4 separate regions of the Homo sapiens genome follow, and all the other regions are linked to region 3. The links come from fine-mapping of genetic effects on gene expression. A gene starts in region 3. Each other region holds a variant in brackets. All regions are shown on one strand. Distances are between the middles of the regions.

What was found.
Region 1: its variant is fine-mapped to the expression of MBOAT1 in CD4 T cells (BLUEPRINT, PIP 0.95).
Region 2: its variant is fine-mapped to the expression of MBOAT1 in whole blood (TOPMed, PIP above 0.99).
Region 4: its variant is fine-mapped to the expression of MBOAT1 in liver (GTEx, PIP 0.99).

The regions. Positions count from the first base shown.
Region 1 is chr6:20,232,658-20,237,856 of GRCh38, forward strand. No RefSeq gene overlaps it. Among named protein-coding and RNA genes, the nearest start is that of MBOAT1, 23 kb to the left of the region's middle. The variant C/T (reference allele first, on the strand shown) is at 2,470.
Region 2 is chr6:20,089,648-20,094,846 of GRCh38, forward strand. No RefSeq gene overlaps it. Among named protein-coding and RNA genes, the nearest start is that of MBOAT1, 120 kb to the right of the region's middle. RefSeq lists an enhancer at 2,546-3,049. The variant C/T (reference allele first, on the strand shown) is at 2,220.
Region 3 is chr6:20,210,137-20,215,304 of GRCh38, forward strand. MBOAT1 (membrane bound glycerophospholipid O-acyltransferase 1) reads right to left here and starts at 2,333. Exons shown (of 13, transcript NM_001080480.3): 1 at 2,000-2,333. The coding sequence starts at 2,098. RefSeq lists a silencer at 2,139-2,678 and an enhancer at 2,861-3,361.
Region 4 is chr6:20,123,078-20,128,077 of GRCh38, forward strand. It overlaps MBOAT1 (membrane bound glycerophospholipid O-acyltransferase 1), which reads right to left. Exons shown (of 13, transcript NM_001080480.3): 7 at 3,440-3,623; 8 at 1,331-1,523. Among named protein-coding and RNA genes, the nearest start is that of MBOAT1, 87 kb to the right of the region's middle. RefSeq lists a silencer at 3,807-3,934. The variant A/G (reference allele first, on the strand shown) is at 3,097.

The sequences.
Region 1 (5,199 bases), 23 kb after region 3:
TTCCTACAACTGCTATAATAAATTACCACAAACCTAGTGGCTTAAAAACAACACAAATGGCTCGGACGCGGTGGCTCACACCTGTAATCCCAGCACTTTGGGAGGCCAGGGTGGGTGGCTCACTTGAGGTCAGGTGTTCAAGACCAGCCTGGACAATATGGTGAAACCCCATCTCTACTAAAAATACAAAAATTAGCTGGGCATGGTGGCACGCGCCTGTAATCCCAGCTACTCGGGAGGCTGAGGCAGGAGAGTCGCTTGAACCTGGGAGCCAGAGGTTGCAGTGAGCCAAGATCATGCCAGTGTACTCCAGCCTGGGCGACAAAGTGAGTCTTGGTCAAAAAACAAACAAACAAACAAAAAAACCACGAATGTATTATTGAAAGGTGACAGCGTGCTGTCAGCCCTCGCACCCTCGCTCGCTCTCGGCACCTCCTTGGCCTTGGCGCCCACTCTGGCTGCGCTTGAGGAGCCCTTCAGCCCGCCGCTGCACTGTAGGAGCCCCTTTCTGGGCTGGCCAAGGCCAGAGCCGGCTCCCTCAGCTTGCAAGGACGTGTGGAGAGAGAGGTGCGGGTGGGAACCGAGGCTGCGCGCGGCACTTGAGGGCCAACGCGAGTTCCAGGTGGGCGTGGGCTCGGCGGGCCACGCACTCGGAGCGGCCTCAGCCCGCAAGCCCCGGGCAGTGAGGGGCTTAGCACCTAGACCAGCAGCTGCTGTGCTCGATTTCTCGCCGGGCCTTAGCTGCCTCCCCGCAGGGCAGGGCTCAGGACCTGCAGCCTGCCATGCCTGAGTCTCCCCGCCCCCGCCGTGGGCTCTTCTGCGGCCTGAGCCTCCCTGACGAGTGCCACCCCCTGCTCCACAGCGCCCGGTCCCGTCGACTGCCCAAGGGCTGAGGAGTGCGGGTGCACGGCGGGGAACTGGCAGGCAGCTCCACCTGCACCCCAGTGCTAAATCCACTGGGTGAGGCCAGCTGGGCTCCTGAGTCGAGTGGGGACTTGGAGAACCTTTGTGTCTAGCTAAGGGGTTGTGAGTGCACCAATCAGCACTCTGTGTAGCTCAAGGTTTGTGAACACACCAGTCAGCACCCTGCCTAGCTAGCTCAGGGTTTGTGGATGCACCAATCGGCACTCTGTATCCAGCTAATCTGGTGGGGACTTGGAGAATCTTTATGTCTAGCTAAGGGATTGTGAATACACCAATCGGCACTCTGTATCTAGCTCAAGGTTTGTAAACACACCAATCAGCACCCTGTGTCTAGCTCAGGGTTTGTGGATGCACCAATCGGCACTCTGTATCTAGCTAATCTGGTGGGGACTTGAGGAATCTTTATGTCTAGCTAAGGCATTGTGAATGCACCAATCGGCACTCTGTATCTAGCTCAAGGTTTGTAAATGCACCAATCAGCACTCTATGTCTAGCTCAGGGTTTGTAAATACACCAGCGGACACTCTATATCTAGCTAATCTAGTGGGGACGTGGAGAACTTTTGTGTCTAGCTCAGGGATTGTAAATGCATCAATCAGCACACTGTCAAAATGGACCAATCAGCTCTCTGTAAAACAGAACAATCGGCTCTCTGTAAAATGGACCCATCAGCAGGATGTGGGTGGGGCCAGATAAGCGAATAAATGCAGGCTGCAGAGCAACTTCAGTCCCCAGGCTAGCAAAGCCGCAAACCCATCGGGAGGAATGAGCAAATCCAGATGTGCTGGCTTAAAAGTTACAACAGCACAAACGTTTGCAGTTTCACTCCTGAGCTCAGTGAGACCAGGAACCCACCCGAAGGGAGAAACTGAATTTCCGAAGAAAATCTGGACTCACTGCCTTTAGAAACTGTAACAGCATGAGGGTCTGTCACTTCATTCTTGAAGTCAGTGAGACCAAGAACCCATCAATTCTGCCTCACACAATTTTGAGGTTCAGAAGTCCAAAATGGGTTTCGCTGGCTTAAAATTGAGGTGTCAGCTGGGCTACATTCTTTTCTGGAGGGTCTAGAGGAGGATCTATTTTCTTACCTTTTCAACTTCTACAAGCTGCCCGCAATCAAGGACTCTCAGCCCCCTTCCATCTTCAAAGCCAGCAGTGGTTGGCTGAGTCTTTCTCATATTCAACGCTTTGACATTGACTCTTCTGCCTCTCTTTCAGAGCCCCTCATGCTTATATTAGGCCCACCTGGATAATATCCCTACTCTCAGAACAGCTGATTAACAACCAACATCCCAGCTGCAACGTTAAATTCCCCCTGCCCAGGAACCTAACATATTAACGGGTTCTGGGAATGAGGACACGGACATCCTTGGGGTCTGTTATTCCACCTCCACGAACTTTAAAGCCTATGTTTTTTTGTTTGTCATACTCCCTTCTCACAAGGTCTCTTAATGTCTTTTCCAATTCTAAAAGTAAAAGTCATGGTCCCTGCTTTTGAGCTTCCAGAGAGGTTAGGGTGGTGAGGCCAACCTGAGTACAGTG[C/T]GGTGCTCAGTTCAGGTCTGTCAGTGAAAAGGCCTGTGATGGAAACCACAGCTGTACTCAGTTTACAAATTCCCTCGCTATGCAAACCTAATGCACATCTTTAGTTCTATCAAGCTGTGGTCATAAGATAACTTGCTGTGTGGATACAGATAGGGTGTAGAACTAACTGATTTGGGGGTTGCGTTGAAGAAAGAAAATGATGTCCCAGAGGCAGTGGGGGGTGGGGGGGGGGACGGGGCCGGTGTTGAGGAGAAAGTGGCAGTAAGGTCCTGTGAGAGAGGCCGAGGGGCACTTTGGAGGGCAAAAGAGGTGGCCACAGAGAAGTCAGAAGAACCCTTTCTTAGTACCAACGCCTCATGGTCAGGCCAGAGCCTGGAACCCTCTCGATGAAGTTTCTGGCAAGAAGAATGCCCTCAAAATTCAAAACGCTTCTGCTTCATTCTTTGTGAGCCAGCAAGTTTAGAAAAGGGGCCTTCCATAAAGACTAAAGCAATCGTGGAAATTCTTAATGATGTTATGAGAACCGCAAGGTGAGCACTTTGGGTGGTGGTGGTGAGAGTAAAGAAGAATTCCATGGTAGAAGAAACTAAAAAAAAAGGGGATGGGGGTCTAAAAAGAACAGGCCAGGCGTGGTGGCTCACACCTGTAATCCCAGCACTTTGGGTGGCCGAGGCAGGTGGATCACCTGAGGTGAGGAGTTGGAGACAAACCTCACCTTGTTGGCCAACATGGTGAAACCCTGTGTCTACTAAAAATACAAAAATTAGCTGGGCATGGTGGCACGCGCCTGTAATCCCACCTACTCAGGAGGCTGAGGTGAAAGAATCGCTTGAACCCAGGAGGCGGAGGTTGCAGTAAGCTGAGACCACACCATTGCACTCCAGCCTGGGCGACAGAGCAAGACTCCATCTCAAAAAAAAAAAAAAGGAAAAAAAAAAAAAAAAAAGAGAGAACAGTCAACTAGGAGAGCCTCTCCCCAAGGCCTTTCCAGCCCTGGGTGGACATTTTGCATCCCCAAGTCAGGAGTATTTTAAAAGCATCTTTATCACAGTGGTGCTCGGCTACTGCAGAATCAAAGCAGGTTTAGACACTGCCAGGATCAGAATCATATTGAGGTACTTGTTAAAAATGCAGACTTGGAAGGTGGTGGGGGTGGTCTTCATGTCAGACCTTCCCAATCAGAATGTCTAGAGTTGGGGACCAGGAATCTTCATCTTAAACAAGATCCTAAAAAAAAAAAAAAAGTTGAGAGCCAAGGTGGCACATTTTCTTCACTGCCAGAGAGATCATTAAAAATAAATTAACACCTCATCATCAGGTGAAGATGAAGGAACTAGGGCAAGAGGAAGAAAATGTGAGAAAAAAAAGATTTCTGTTTCCTGGTACTGTGACCACCGCAGACAGCAGCCTTGAGAACTGCGAATGTGGTTGCTAACAAGCATTCTAGATTCCCTAAACTGTCTGCTTTCAGACTCAAAATTTTGTGCCACTGAATATTTAGTAAGCAACAGCTTACTGAGAAGATAGGGACAGGGCTGTATTTTGCTCCCTTAAATAATATTAATTGAATTATCATATCGTCTATAGCTATGGTAAGAATATGTATTCATTGCAGTGGGAAGAACTATCAACAGCGTTTAAAGGGAGCATGTTCCCTCAAGCATGTATTTGCCTATTCACTGATGGCTGTTATAATTTTAGGCAAATTATGAGAAAAGTAACCACATGGATGCACACTGGGTACAGCTAAAATTTTTTTCAGATAAAAAAAGCAACAACAAATATCTAACTATGTCTGCCATTATTGATCTTATTCCAGATGGGCTTCTGGTTGTGGTTCAGGGTTCAAACTCTCTTGCTGAGTGAACCATCTTTATTTAAATAACCTTTAAACACTCAATACTGTTTTTTTGTCACCCTCTGCATGGAGGAATACATGCACCACACCTATCTAGACTATTTTTCCTCTAAAGGGTGTGGCCAAGGCTACACCTAAGTCTTTTGTGTGTTCAAGCTAAGTAAGAATTCTGTGGCTAGAGACCAATTCTTTTCATTTTTTGAATGTTTCATCAAAACTAGTTGAGCTACATGTGTGAATGGAGGGTATGGGCATTTAATGGAGACTGCTTTACAAGGCTGGAGATAAATTGCTATTTCTCTCTCCTCCTTTCACTTCTTTAAATTTCATGTTCTTAAAAGATCCCACCTATTCTTTAAACTTTCAACCCCTGAGTAATTTGCTCTCCAAGAGAAATTTTTCTTTAGGTGTGTCTTGCCATAAACCAAAGTTCACACCCTTGGCTATTCGTCCGAATCACCTAGGGAGCTTTTAAAAAATACTGATGCCAGGGCTGTAGTCCAGACCAGGAAAATAAAAATCTCCTGGGATGATCCCCAGCAAGATATAGGCAAGTTTATTCTAAAAGGTATATGGAAACAGAAAGAACCTAGAATAGCTAAGATAGTTTTTGAAAAAGAATAAAGTAGAAAGAGTCACTCCAACTACTGTTAAAGCTTATATAGTTATGGTAATCAAGACAGCATGGTGTGATGGAGGTTTAGATACATATGTGATCTGAGAGACCAAAATATCAACTAAGACAGACCCTAAGCTTAAGCAAACAAAAGTTACCTATGGGTTGAGGGTTCGGGGCCCAGCGGCCATGGCAAATTTCTAAATTCCTACAGCTACAACAAAAACCACACCCTTGCTAAACTAACAATAGGAGT
Region 2 (5,199 bases), 120 kb before region 3:
GATTAACAAAGCTTAAAAAACAATTTTTTTCTGTTTCTTACTTTTTCTGCTTCCCAATTTTATTTACATGACCAAAACAAACAAATTTTAAATACAAGTTATAAGTTATTCAAGTAGCACAAGAAGAATTTTTGGCATAATTATTTATTTATTTATTTATTTATTTTGAGATGGAGTCTCGCTGTGTCATGCAGGCTGGAGTGCAGTGGCATGATCTTGGCTCACTGCAACCTCCATCTCCCAGGTTCAAGTGATTCTCCTGCCTCAGGCTCCCGAGTAGCTGGGATTACAGGTATGTGCCACCATACCTGGCTAATTTTTGTATTTTTTGTAGAGATGGGGTTTCACCATGTTGGCCAGGCTGGTCTCCTGGCCCCAAGTGATCCGTCTGCCTCGGTCTCCCAAAGTGCTGTTACTAAAGGTGTGAGGCACCGTGCCCTGCCAATATAATTCTTAAAATGAACTTGAGCAGTTTGGCGACGCCTGACCTAAGTCCTAGGGGAAAGCCCAGGGTTTCGATTCTGTTGCCATCACTTACTGTGGGTGTGTCCATGGGAAACTCACTCAAGTTATTCAGGCCTCAGGTTCCTAATTTTAAAACGGATAGTAACATCTGGTTCCACTAACTTTAGATTGTTGGTTTGGGAAACAAAGGAAATAATGTAAGAGAAAGCACTTTATAAACTGAATTACAAACAAAACGTGGGATGAAATAGAGTGTCACCTCTTTTCATGAGGTTCTGGAACTAGTCTTGCAGTGTTTAGAAAACTAATCACAAGAAAGAGAAAAAATGAAGGGAGGAAGGAAAGAATAGACTTGCCTAAAAGATAGGTTGTTTCGAAATATTTTCCCCCACGATGGTAAGACATAAACTCAATCTGTGAATTTTATCCAAGTCCCAGGTTTTGTTGAGAAACAAGTGAGCTGGGAAGGAAGAACTAGAAAGATTAATTCACTGCATTGCTTGGCCTAGTAACCATGGGCCAGAAGAGAACCTATGCCTACTTCACACTTCCGTGTGTGAACAAGGCATGTTATTTATTGTGTCTGCTAGGCACAGAGTGAAGACTTCAATATTTGCCAGAATGTTTGTGCTTCTTTCTAAATTCAGAAACTTGCCTAAATGGCTGGACGCAGTGGCTCAGGCCTGTAATCCCTGCACTTTGGGAGACTGAGGTGGGCAGATCACCTGAGGTCAGGAGTTCGAGACTACCCTGGCCAACATGGCAAAACCCTGTCTCTACAAAAAATACAAAAATTAGCTGGTTGTGGTGGCGCACGCCTGTAATCCCAGCTACTTCGGAGGCTGAGGCAGGAGAACTGCTTGAACCCAGGAGGTGGAGGTTGCAGTGAGCTGAGATCACATCACTGGCACTCTAGCCTGGGCGACAGAGTGAGACTCCATCCTTCCGCTCCCCTACCTCCCCGCCCGCAAAAAAAAACTTGCCTAACTGCTCCAACCATAAAACTGAAATGTCAGTGGTGGAAGATAACATATAAAACACCTGTATTTTCCTTTAAGTCATTCAGAACTTATTACCTAGGAAACAAAATACTACAAAGTTATAGGCCAAAAAATAAGTGTTGAGAAGCTCACTACTGGAAATAAAGAGGTTCAGAAGAGTGTGAAGAAAAACATCAAATTATGGAATGTTAGAAGCAGAAGCAACCATGCTGGTCAGCTTATTTAATACCCACCTTTTACACACAAGAAACTTGATCTCCAAAGAACTTATATGACCCCATATCACAATGACCTATTTCCACTATATCATCATTTGAGAATTCTGTCAGCTTCATAACTCATATTATGGTTTAACTCATTTAATCCCCACAATTCTGAAGAGTAATTATAATTGCTAGCATTCCTCCTAAGAAGAAAAGTATTCAGAGCCGGTTGCTCACTTTTTTTATGGTCACACAGCATGTAGAGGCAGAAATTTGCCTTAAATGAAGCTATTTTGCCTTCAGCATCTCTGCTCCTTGGAGTTTACACACCCTCCTGTGTGCTTTTTTCCTACAGTGGAGAGAGGACAGGGCAGGGAAACAATTCATTATTTGACCCTATAGCAATAGGGTCATTAAAATCTGACCTTTACTCCGAAAGACTATCATTTACTGTTCAAAAGAAACACCAGACAGTGACTCACGCCTGTAATCCCAGCACTTTGGGAGGCTGAGGCGGGCTGATCACGAGGTCAGGAGTTCGAGACCAGCC[C/T]GGCCAATACAGTGAAACCCTGTCTCTACTAAAAAATACAAAAATTAGCCTGGCATGGTGGCACACACCTGTAGTCCCAGCTACTCAGGAGGCTGAGGCAGGAGAATCGCTTGAACCCAGGAAGCGGAGGTTGCAGTGAGCCGAGATCATACCACTGCACTCCAGCCTGGGCGACAGAGCAAGACTCCATCTCCAAAACAAACAAACAAAAAAAAACCAGAGGTTAAAGTGGCAATTGCTAAGCATTCTAAGCATTCAGAGTGTGAATGAACAAATGAATGAATGAACAAATGAATGCTTGACTTCCTAATTCAACATGGAAATCATCAGAAATTACCTCACATGGCCACAAGATGTCACTACTTCACACCACTTCAGAAAAATCACATTCTAAGTCAAGAATTTTAGATCCTTTGGACAGAGGGAATTTCTTGTTCCTCATTGAGAAAGGCTTAGTTATTTTGCATGTGTTTTGGGACTGCTTCCTTGTTTTCTCTTAAGTCTATCTACCTCAAGAGATACTGCAAAACGTAGACTTTAAATGAAGGCTGAGGCTGAATGCTCTTAAGCTGGGAAGCATTAATCAAGAAGTCAATCACTCACCTGTTTCCAGGGACTTCTCAGCAAAAACAAAGGCAGGATTGACACTTTGACTACTCTGTTACCCTGCTCTGTTTGCAAAGCTTTCTCTCAGCACTTTCTTGTAATTCTACCTCTCTCATTGCTTCAGATTCACAAAAAAACAGTGATTCAGCAACATCCAAAAGGCAGCACACTGGGGTTTTAAATAGTGCTTTCTTCTTGAAATGTTTGCCTCACACCTTCCTTACCGGGAATAAGGTTCAAATTACTGCAGTGAGTTTACATAAGCTATTAATGCATTTAATTATTCAGTTCAGGGCTGTCCTGGGCTTATTGGTATTTTTTTTTAAGTATCATGAGACTCCAGTTTGCAAATCATCATTTCAAGTTCTTAAAAGTTTTTATACACCAAAATAATGTTAACCAAGCTTGATATTTCAACTTCAGCTATATTTAACATTGATAAAATAAACTTCAAATTTATTTTGATGGAAATATTTTATTCATGAGATCAACTGATGCTTGTAGATTGATTTTTAACAGTCCTAGAAAGTTTTAGAGTTTGATGTATTTTATTGGCATTCTCTATTAGATTCCCCTTCCTAACATTTCTTATTGAAATTGTTGATAAATAATCTTCATCAATTAGCCATTCAAGTTTGATGGGGCTGAGAAGGAAGGAAGCTCATTCATAAAAAGAAGCTGCTTGGTGGGTTTGGGGATCATTCAACTTTATAGGCCAAAAAAGCTGTTTTGCCTTAAAGGTCCATATTTCACACCACTTCAGAAAAATCCCATTCCAAGTCAAGAATTTTAGATCCTTTGGACAGAGGGAATTTCTTGTTCATCATTGAGAAAGGCTTAGTTATTTTGCATACGTTTTGGGACCACTTCCTTGTTTTCTCTTAAATCTACCTCAAGAGATACCGCAAAAAATGTAGACTTTAAATGAAGCCTGAGGCTGAATGCTCTAAAGCTGGGAAGAATTAATCAAGAATTTCTGGTGATTTCCATGTTGAATTAGGAAGTCGAGCATTCATTTATTTGTTCATTCATTCATTCACACTCTGAATGCTTAGAATGCTCAGCAATCGCCACCTTAACTTCTTAGGAAGAACAAATACATCCCATTTACTGAGAGGCTAAACAAACAGTCACTCGCCAGGCAAAGGGTTAAACGGTTCAGAGAAGGAGGCCTCAATCTCCACATTGTGATGGACTATACAATATGTAAAAGTCATTTCTTACTAGCAATAGTTTAAAGAGTTAAGGTTTGCAAGTGATTTTCCACTTAAAATTAAATAAATTACCTAACCGCATTCAAGTCAACCCCCATTACAACTTCACTGGATTTCATTCCTTGCTATGCTCATTAGAGCAGGAGAGAAAGAGACGGGAGATTTCATGGCATGTGGACATTCTCATCCTGTAAAGTTAAATGGAAAATTAAAATTCCAAACTCTATAGGAAGCATTAGACTTTTCCACAGATAAATGCCGATACCAAAGAACAACCAGAAATATAAAACAACAAAACAAAACAAACCTTCAACACAAAAACTAGAAATAAAATGCCAACAGGGGCTGGGATTATAGATGCCTTATTCCTTTTCTGTATTTTCAAATTTTTCTAAAAGGAATATATTTTTTAAATAAAGCAGCAGAAACCAAATGCCCAACCATTAGGGGACTGCTTTTCAAAATTATAGCACATTTATTTACACACTATTATGCAGCCATCAAAAACAACTTTTAGGAAGTTTCTGCAATAATATGGAGAAATGCTTATGATGTAAAACATTTGCAACAACTTGAAAAGCTCGATGCAGGGCACAGAATTTCTCTGAAAGGCCACATAAGAAGATAACACTGGCTGCATCCAGATGATGAAAACAGAGAGCTGAAGGTAGGCCTAGCAGGGAGAATTACTTTTTTTTGAGACAAGTCCCACTCTGTCACCCAGGCTGGAGTGCAATGGCACAAACTCGGCTCACTGCAACCTCCGACTCCCAGGTTCAAGTAATTCTCCTGCCTCAGCCTGCTGAGTAGCTGGGATTATAGGCGTGCAACACCATGCCCGGCTAATTTTTGTATTTTTTAGTAGAGACGTGGTTTCATCATGTTGGTCAGGCTGGTCTTGAACTCCTGACCTCATTATCCACCCACCTCAGCCTTCCAAAGCGCTGGGAGTACAGGAATGAGCCACCGCACCTGGCCTGAGAATTACATTTCTCTATACATTTTTTCTCACTGATCCAATTGGCAAAACATAAGAGTCTGCTAATACCAAGTACTGATGAGAATGTGGACAAAGAAAAACTGTTACACATTTTGGGGAAAGAAAAAACGCATACAACCAGCTGGAGAACAAGAGCACCCGAGCAAGCTGAGAGTGCATT
Region 3 (5,168 bases):
TCACATCATATAAAATTTCTCAACCTCAAAAGGTAGGTCTTATTGTCATCTCCCATTTTACATGAGGATGCTGAGTCTCCAAGAGGGTAGAGTACCAGCTGGCAGTCACAAAGGGAAGTTTGCTGGCAGAACTGGAATTGCACCCAGGTCAGTCTGACATCTAAGCCTTTAAAAAGCCTTAAAAATGTGAAAGGGAAAAAACACACAAAGCTTCCAAACTCGCAAGCCACAACGTAGCCTCAAACGACCTTATTTATGGTTTGGGGATTTTCCTTGGGCCTAAAATAAGCTACCTGGGGCACTGCCTTTTAAGTGCTTCTTCCACCAAGGGTCATCCACACTCACTCCTGCTGGAGGGTGGTCAGACTGACCTAAGAGCTAAGAGATCTCAGGTGCTCCTGGCCATGGCAAACATTTCTCCTTCGGTTTATCCCAGAAGTCTCTCCCTCCCTCCCTCCCTCCCTCCCTCCCAGTTTTAAACATTCCTAAGGCTCTTTTGTTCCTTTTTATGAATTAAAACCAGAATTACCTTTATAGGAAAGTAGGGGATGCAATTGAAAGACATTAAAAACATTATTCTAGCACCTCCCAGCCATAACTTGCCATGGTCCTTTAGCCATACAAAAAGCCTTCCTGGAGTCTTTCTAGCTGTGTAGAAGAGCTTAGAAGAGAAAATGCAATTAAAATACCTTCTGATAGGGAGTGGAGAGGTAAGTACAAAACAAACTCCCCTTAAGGAAATTCAGCTATGAGTTTTATTTAATTTCAGAACTAAAGAATTTGCTATTATGTCCGCCTCTGCCTGGGTCCCTGGGTCTATCTCATCCTCACCAGAAACTAAAGAGTAATTTACAAAAGCACAAATGCTTTGGCACCGAAACCCTTCCCAAGTTTCTGACTTTCTGTATTCTGCAACTGATGAGAACGCAATGGTCACATCAGGTGGAGTTCTCAGTCAGGTCCTCAGAGTGAGCCAGGTATGAGGGTGGCTCAGTAAACAGGACCCGAATAAGGCAAATGTCCAGGTCTCACTTTCTCATTGCTGAAGGGGTGTGCGCAAAGGGCAGCAGGTGTGCTCTTGTTAAAAGGAAAGGAAAAGGAGCACTGGTGAGAGGAAGGGGAAGAAAACCAGGCAAAAAAGCATGAAACAAAACAGGAGCGCAGTGGGTCCTCCCCCAGCATGCCCTGCCCAATTCTATTTAAATCAACATTTACTGATTGGGTCACTACTAAGTATCCCGCAGATCTAGCCTGCAGCACCTGAAGAGACAAGGAAATGAGTAAGACGGGCTTCATCTTCAGGAAGGTTTCTTGCCAGGAATCACTGTTGTTGCCATTTTTAATTTTAATGGTTGTAGATAATTCCTGGACAGTTCAAATAACTTCACTGGGGCCCCTCTCCTCCCCCTAACCTGTCCTACTCAGAAGCTCCAGCCCCAGGCATATGAGCCAACCGAACCCTGGGAAAACCAAAGTGTCCTTGTGTGTCCCGCATCACACACGGTACAAAATAACTGTCACCCCTGAACAAGCCTCGCCTCAGAAGTCTAAAACCCAGGTCCTGCATTCAAAATCTATAGACTACCGTCTACAGATTCATCGCGCTTGTTTTTTAAGTAGGGTCATCTAAATTAAAAACAATAACGACTTGAGGACACTGATGAAAGAAACACTGGTTTCATGTATCAGACTACTTCAGAACTTGATTACAGGAAACGAGGCAATCCCAAACTTAAAGAAAAAAAAGTTCAGTAGAACTTGCCGCGCAGGCTGTACCAATATTTTTTCACACTTACAAGGAGAAAAACACTAACACCAACTCAAGAAGGGAAAACACACACACACACACACACACACACACACACACAAAAACCAACTGTCTAGTGTGTGGCTGTAAAATACGCCATGGAGGCGGAGGGACGGTGGCTAACACTTTCGCCCGCCCCGTGCACGCGATCGCTGGGGAGCTGGGGTCGCTGCGCTCCCGGCCTGCAGTTACCTGGTCCAGCGGGATGCCCAGGAGCTCGCTGAGCGGGTGCAGGTAGGTGGAGCCCGTGGTGCGGTAGGAAAGGCTGGACGGCTGCGGCTCTGCTGCCATCCTGCATCTTCGGGAGGTGGCTGCCCCTGTCCCAGCCCGCAACACCCCCTGCTCGGCGTCCTCCCGCCCGGGTGCTCTTGGGTGGTTGCCCCGAGAGGCGCACGGCCGCCTGGTTCGCGGGGGAGCGAACGGGAGGCCGGGGAATGCGAACCGGCGCAAACTCTCGAGGCGCAAACTCTCGAGGCGCAAACTTGGCTTTGGCGCTGGCGCTGCAGCCACGGGCGCCGTAGGAGGGCCGGGCCCAAGGCGCCCCGCTTCCCGCTCCCTTCCTCTCCGCGCCCATTGGCCCGGCCGCTCGGGACGGCCCCGAGAGGAGGGAAGGAGGGAGGAAAAGTGGGGACTCCGAGCCCGGCCCCCAAGCGCCGCCCGGCCCGCCCAGCCTGGCCTGCACCGAGGCCGACCGGGAGAGGGAAAGCGACGCCAGCGGGCGCCGCCGCCTGGCCCTGCAGCTGGAGGCGGGACGCGCCTTTCCTCCTCCCGGGCTGACCGTCCTAGCCCCCCGCCAGACAAAACGACCTCACCCAGCGGGCGCCTTCCACTAGAGAGCACCACCCACCCCGCCCCACCCTGTTTTGGTTTCGCCGCCGCAGTCGAAGCGGCTGAGTGGCTGCGTTTCCCTTTCAAGCCGTAGAGGGTTCCTCTGCCGGTGGCTGGAAGCTGGAGCGCCGCAGCCACCAGACTCCCTACTTCCTTTACCCTCCTCTGCGCTAGGCATAGTTTCCTACACCCTGATCTGACATGTTCGGTGTCACACAAGCAAATACAGGGGACTGCTAGCTTCGGGTCACTTCCGTCTCTGTGGAGTGAGAGTTATTTCACCTCTGTAAGAAACGGTGTTTACTGTCATACTATGTGCATTCTGATAAGTCATTTGCATGCCACGGGTCCTCAAAAAGGGTGCCTTGCTCCTTAACTTGTCTGCCCCCGAACACCCACACATCAATGTTACTTGGAAAACTTTTCCAAGTTATTGCTAGGTTCTGAGAAACATAAAAATCTTGAAGATCCTTTTCAGGAATCGCTAGCTGATGAAAAAGGGTTTCAGGAAGGTAATATTCTGGGCTGCTGGGTAGAAAACCAAAGAAAGTGAGCTCACGTGGCCCCCAGCCTCCGCTGGGTAAACCGGCATTCGATCAGACAGGCAATGACTTTCGGGGCCGACTTTATCAATGTGGCCTCCAGCTTCAAATTAAACCGAAGGCCTGTCAGGCACTGGCAACAACTTACTCTCCAAGACTCAGGCCTCACTCTTGCCTTCTTCAGGAGTTTTATCACCATCAAACTGCACTGAGCATTAAATTGCCAGGCCAGAGTTTCTCAACCTATGTCCCCTGTGGAGGAGGAAAAAAAAAAGTCTGTACCACCACTCCCACAAGCTAACCGAATGGAGATGTCACCACCAGATGATAATCTCTACCACTCACAAGCAAACCCACACTACAGACAGACAGACACATGCACACACGCACACAGGCATATACTTGAGGATCACTAGGCTAGATAGGTTCATTTAATATCATAGAGTCCTGGAAAATGACCAGCATTGGAGCAACATTCATCTTATCTGGAGCTAGATGACAGCTGAAGTGAGGTATATGAGAGCAGACGGAGCTTTGTTTAAAAGGAAAAAAAAATCAACACTCAGATATGAGTTGCTGGAAAACAGAAGTAGGTCAGTTTGGGAAGTATTTCTGGAGCAAGTGCCTCAGACCCTTTATAATTTTCACAAAGCTATGCCTTTTAGACTTCAAAGAATAGTCCTCACATAGGCCATATATATATATGTGTGTGTGTGTGCGTGTGTATATATATTTATTATAAATATATTAATTTATATAATCATATATAAATATATTTATATATGTAAAGTTTTATATGTACATATATTAGCCTTACACAGGTTTATATATACATATATTACACAGTTTTTATATATATATATAACACAGGTTTGATATATACATATGTATATATGTATATGTAAAATATATACATGTATTAGCCTTACACAGGTTTTTTTCTCCCTAACAAAACACAGTTCATAACCTAGTCTAAATTTTTCTTTTAAAAATGGCCGGGTGCGGTGGCTTATGCCTGTAATCCCAGCATTTTGGGAGGCCGAGGCGGGCAGATCACCTGAGGTCAGGAGTTCGAGACCAGCCTGGCCAACATGGTGAAACCCCATCTCTACCAAAAAACAAAAATTAGCCAGGTGTGGTGGCAGGCACCTGTAATCCCAGCTACTTGGGAAGCTGAGGCAGGAGAATCGCCTGAACCCAGGGGACGGAGGTTTCAGTGAGCAGAGATCACGCCACTGGACTCCAGTCTGGCTAACAGAGCAAGACTCCATCAAAAAAAAAAATAAAAATAAAAATGTAGTAACTATGGTTAGAGCTTATAAACAAAATGTCACAGAACTTAATAGTTCTTTTCTCTTGATACTGTAGTACAATTAATGCAAAAAAAAATACTACTGTTGGATAACTCAGAACCAAGAGAGTAGCTCTGTTACACTACAGATGAATGAAACACACTTTGAAGAAGTTGTTTATATGAGTCCAAGATGTATAACAGCGGCACCATGGACACATTGCTCTTTTCCTTCATCAGTATCTCTATTTCCATCCTCTGTCAACTGTAGGTTCACAATAATTATTATCATATGTTAGAAATCACTTTACAAAAGCTGTTTCATTTACCAGTGCTAATAATCCTGTGGTAGTTATAAGAATCTATTTTATAGATGTGAAACCTGGGGTTAAGGGAGCTTAAGTGACTTGGTTGTATTTAGGGAGGTTAAGTAAAATGTGTCTGTCTGATTCCAGAGCCTGGGCTCTTTATTCATTATGCATTGCCTCCTCTAAAACATAGTATTTTTCTCTTTATCAAGAGGCCAGCCCACACACCTGATACAACCTTGTCATTTTTGTAGACGAGACATTACATTTACCATTCAAAATGAGGTGGTAGGGGTGATGCCACAGACACGCTGTCTCTCCTGTTTTCTATTTGCAGTAGAGTGAGGCTTGATATCAAGGTCAGTTTTATGAATCTTCCCTATGGAACCATG
Region 4 (5,000 bases), 87 kb before region 3:
CCTTAGCCTCCCAAAGTGCTAGGATTATAGTCATGAGCCATTACACCCAGCCAAAAAAATTATAATTTTTTTTAAAAAAAAAGTAATTTGGTACCTGCAAACTTTAACTGGAACTTAAAACTTGAAGGATGAACTGAGAGAGAAGAGGAACTCAAGGAATTAAGTGCTATTCCCTCATTCGTGAGATGTGGGCTGAACCCTCAGAAACCAAGTTTAATCTTCTATTTTATTTAATAAGCCAAGTCACTGCTCTCTGACATCAAGCGCAGGTCGCTTGCAGCTAAGACACACAACTCCCATCCCTGAAAGGGTTCCAGTGTGACATAGACAGGGCTTCCGTACTTTATCAACACCCTTTCCCAGTCTCTAAGTATACAGATGGGTTTATAGCTCATGTTAGTAAAGCTTTATGCAACTGCAGTCTAAAATTGTTTGAAAGGAAAGAGATAAAAGCTTAATATAGACCAAGTTATCCCACAGGAAAAAACAAAAGGTGTGATAAAACCAAGTGAAGTTGAACTTTCTACCTAAAAAAAAAAAAAAATCACTTGAAGTCAGCTTCTTTCTAAGACATAAAAACCTAACAACGGTTCCTTAAAGAAGTGTAACCTAAATTAGCATGTGTGTTGGTCAAATTAATTCAAGGTGCATCCTATATTACATAAAACCCAGAAAAACTACAAAAAAGCCAGATCAAGGCTGGGCGTGGTGGCTCACACCTGTAATCCCAGCACTTTGGGAGGCCAGGGCGGGCAGATCACGACGTCAGGAGATCGAGACCATCCTGGCTAACACTGTGAAACCCCATCTCTACTAAAAATACAAAAAAAATTAGCTGGGTGTGGTGGCGGACGCCTGTAGTCCCAGCTACTGGGAGGCTGAGGCAGGAGAATGGCATTAACCCAGGAGGTGGAGCTTGCAGTGAGCCAAGATCGTGCCACTGCGCTCCAGCCTGGGCGACAGAGTGAGACTCCATGTCAAAAAAAAAGAAAGCCAGATCAATCATTCCAGAATTTCCCCTCAACTTTCCACTGCTTTACATGGCCAACTTTGATTGGTAGAAGGAGAAGCTTCCAAGTTTTGACATCTGCTAATAACATTGGGTTTAAACAACAGCCAGGGTGTTTTTCTCCTTATCATGGAGAACTGAGTTTATGGAGGGTGGGAGAGAGGAGTGCTATGTTGGTACGTTAAAACTGACCCTGACTCAACTGCCTCCCATTACGTGTTGAGCTTCTTTGATGAAGTGATCCAAAACGTCGTTCTGGCTAAGCCATTCAAGCAGTAGCATTTTTCCCTCATTCAGTTACAGCTACTCCATCAAACTTACCTAATGTCCATGCAAAGTAATACTTGGGCTTTGAGGCTTGCATGACAACATATAAGTAGCAGAGTCGAGCCGGAAAGCTTGCTTTATGGACAAACCAGTCATCCACAAGGCAGGTGACAGGAAAGGTCTTCGTTAGCGTCAAAAACAAAAGGAGAGACACCAAGGTGATGCCCAACTTGTGTATCACAGCTCCCTGAAAATGGGGAAAAATCAGTGTCACCGTGCAGAAGGCTCAGGTATGAAGAAAACAGCTTTGGAATGGACCTGTTAAGGACAACGTTGCTCCAACAGCTGCTTGGCATTATTCCCCAGAAGGAGTGACAACAGGCATTCTTCCTCATGAGACAAATCTGACAATGGAGATTAGGTGCTATATTTAGATACAGAACATGCCTCTGACACTTGGGGGTTGAATGTATCTAGACTGGAAGAAAACTTCCATCAGCATATTCAACGAACAAAATGTAAGTACTTATATTATCCAAAACACAAGAGAAATGGATAACAGGGTGGCAAGTTTCCATCAAGAAAAACAAAAAACATTTGCACATTTGCCTTCTATTCCTGTGGCCAGCAGAGCCCAGGAAATGGGCTTGAATCACCAGTAGGGAAGACAGAGGCTCAGGTACGAAGGATTCTGAGCAAGTGATTGAATACCTGGGCCAGCCAGGACATGGGCAGGTAATGGGGAGCTCTAGAAAGCCTTCCAGGGTGGTTTAGATATAGTCTACTCTGGGGTTAATTATGTGCTGACTTTTTAAATTCCTCTGGACAGAGTGATTTTGCCTAGCTCCCCTGACATTTCAAGGAATGTCCTTCAACATTCAACAGAACTCTAGTCTCCGACTTCATAAAAAAAAGACTTTTATTGGTAGTATGGGCATAGCAATAGCACCTTCCTCAGAGGGCACCTTGGGGTTTAAGTGAATGAGTATTTGCAAGGTCCTGTGAACAGTGCCTGGATCCCAGTTAAGTGCTTAGCACGCTCAGCCACAATTACAGCTATACCACTGATAGGCACCAGCTCATGGATCCCAGCCCTTTCCCAGCTGTATGTCTTGAACTAAAACGCAACCTCACCACTTCACCTTATCTGTGCACAAAAATGCAAGTGTTTCCTTGGAGAGTGGCAGAAAGACTCTCTGATGACATTACCTTATAAATAAAAGCACGAGAAGCGTGAAAACACTAAGGTGACAGATACTGCCTAGAAATGCTGTCACTTTGGTGTCTCTCACAACCATGGTGACTTCACTCCTAGATCGTTTTGGTAAAGCAGATGAACTTGAGATACTTGACCAACCATAAAGTGCTGAGAACTGAACTATGTCAAAAATATCTAAAAACTCATACCTAATTAATAAATCCCTTAAGTTTTCAAATACTTAACTCATAGTCTTTGCCAAGGCGTTAGCAGTTTCAAAATGTTTAACTTGAATTATCCTCATTTCCTTCCTTTTCCAATTTTCACCACTCCTTTCGTTAATTACAAATGTCCCTTAAATATAGGATATTTGACCTGAATAAATTGAGCATATTTGTAAAGTTCAATGAGTTATTCTAATATTGACTAATTAGAGATTGATAAAATTCAGTTAAGTTTTAAAATATTATTTCAAAAAGTCATCTTAAATTCTCTCAAGGTCAACATAAGCAAGCTTTAGGCATGCCAAGGTAAAACTGGTTTCCCTTGCAATAAGTGAGCTCTACAAGAAAAACACAGTAATTCCAGTTCCGTGGTCCCCCTCCCCCTCACCTTCTATGCC[A/G]TATCATCTTTTGGCTGTACTTGAATTTCAACTCATAAAGGCAAAACACCCATAGTATTCAAACGTGTTAACTCCACAGTGCTGGACACCTTGTATGCACTAAATATTGACTGATGAACTGACTGCTTTCATTTTCCTAGCCAATGAGCTTCTCAGTAAAATAAACACCCATTGCTGCAAAATAGAACTGCTGCAAATAAGTAACTATACTGGTATTTTAAATAAATGAGAAAAGTTATTGGCCAAGCTTTCTGGTAAACTGTTTGGCTTCTTAATTAGAACCATTATTAGAGAGAGTCAACCCTGGCAGCAAAACCCTATTCTCTAGACACTAAAAACTTACTGTGGGAGAAGGTTCTGGCAAGCTGTGGAAACCTTTTCGCTTCCAGTTCACCTCCAGCAACTTCATGTGTATATGCTTCCCCTCAATGAAGGCTATGTAGTCCTTGAAATTGTTACAAGGACCAGCTATGACACTCATGAAATTGAGAAGGTAACTTAAGTATTCCAAAAAAGAGGGTTTCACTCTGTGAAAATAAAGTAAATAAATTGAAAAGTCTTCAGTCTTTGCTTTTTCTTCAGAATCTGTAAATAAGCAAACACAAATGTTATCTCTGTAGATTCGATACATGACATGACCTTTCCTTGTTTTGTTTCTACAAAGTCAGCCGAGGAGAAATCTTGTGGAAAGGAAAGGTTAAAGAAGCAGGGGGCTCACAGCAGGCACAGAGCTCCATGCTGCCCTCTGCTGGCCAGACACAGCCGTAGGCACTCAGAGCTGGGCGAGGGCAAGTGCAACTCAGGCTGGGAAATGTCCTTATCTCATCAACCTTTCCTGTCTACAGGACAAAACGAAGGTAATAAACATAAAGCAGGGCGGAACCTGACCTAATGTTAGCGGATCGAGATGCTTCCAAATGGGAAAACTCCCTCCCGATTGCCAACATAAATACAAAACAAATGATGGGTGGAACCAGTTTCCACTGAAAGAGGCCACGCAGAAGAACCGCAGTAGCAGCCTGTTGTCTGCTTTGGCAACCAGGCCTGAGTTCCTGAGTAACAGACCAAGGTAGTGGAGGGAAAAAAGTCTGTAGAGAACTGTTCTGTGTGGTGCTTTAATGGCATTTTGGAAGGCCTGTTCTAGCAAGATAGAATAAAGACTCCCTGAAATGTCATTGCTAACCAGTCGCCGGAATTATCCCCTATAGCAGGGATTCCCAACCCCTGGGGCTCAGACTGGTATTGGTCTGTGGCCTGTTAGGAACTGGGCCAACAGCAGCAGGTGAGCGGCATGTGAGCAAACAAAGCTTCATCTGTATTTACAGCCTCTCCCCATCACTTACATTACCGCCTGAGCGCCACCTAATGTCAGATCAGCAGCGGCATTAGATTCTCATAGGAGTGCAAACCCTATGGTGAACCGTGCATGCCAGGGATGTAGGCTGCACACTCCTTATAAGAATCTAATGACTGATGATCTGTCACTGTTCCCCAACACCCCCAGATGGGACCACCTAGTTGCAGGAAAACAAGCTCAGGGCTCCCGCAGATTCTACATTATGGTGAGTTGTATAATTATTTCATTATATATTACGATGTAATAACAATACAAAGTGCACAATAAATGTAAGGCCCTCCTGAAACCATCCCCCCACCACCACCCGCAACCCTGGGTCTGTGGAAAAACTGTCTTCCACTAAACTGGTCCCAAACAGGTTGGAGACTGCTGCCCTACAGCATTTACACCTCCATTGTGCTTAGGAAAGGGCTGATTCATTAGAATCTTTCAATAGTGCTCCACTGCTTCCAAGTCCCAATTCCTTAATGCAGGAATGAAGAAGTCAATCTCCTCTACCACCTGGAACCTTCCTCAGTTATGCCAGTTGTCCCTGCTTCTGTCTAGC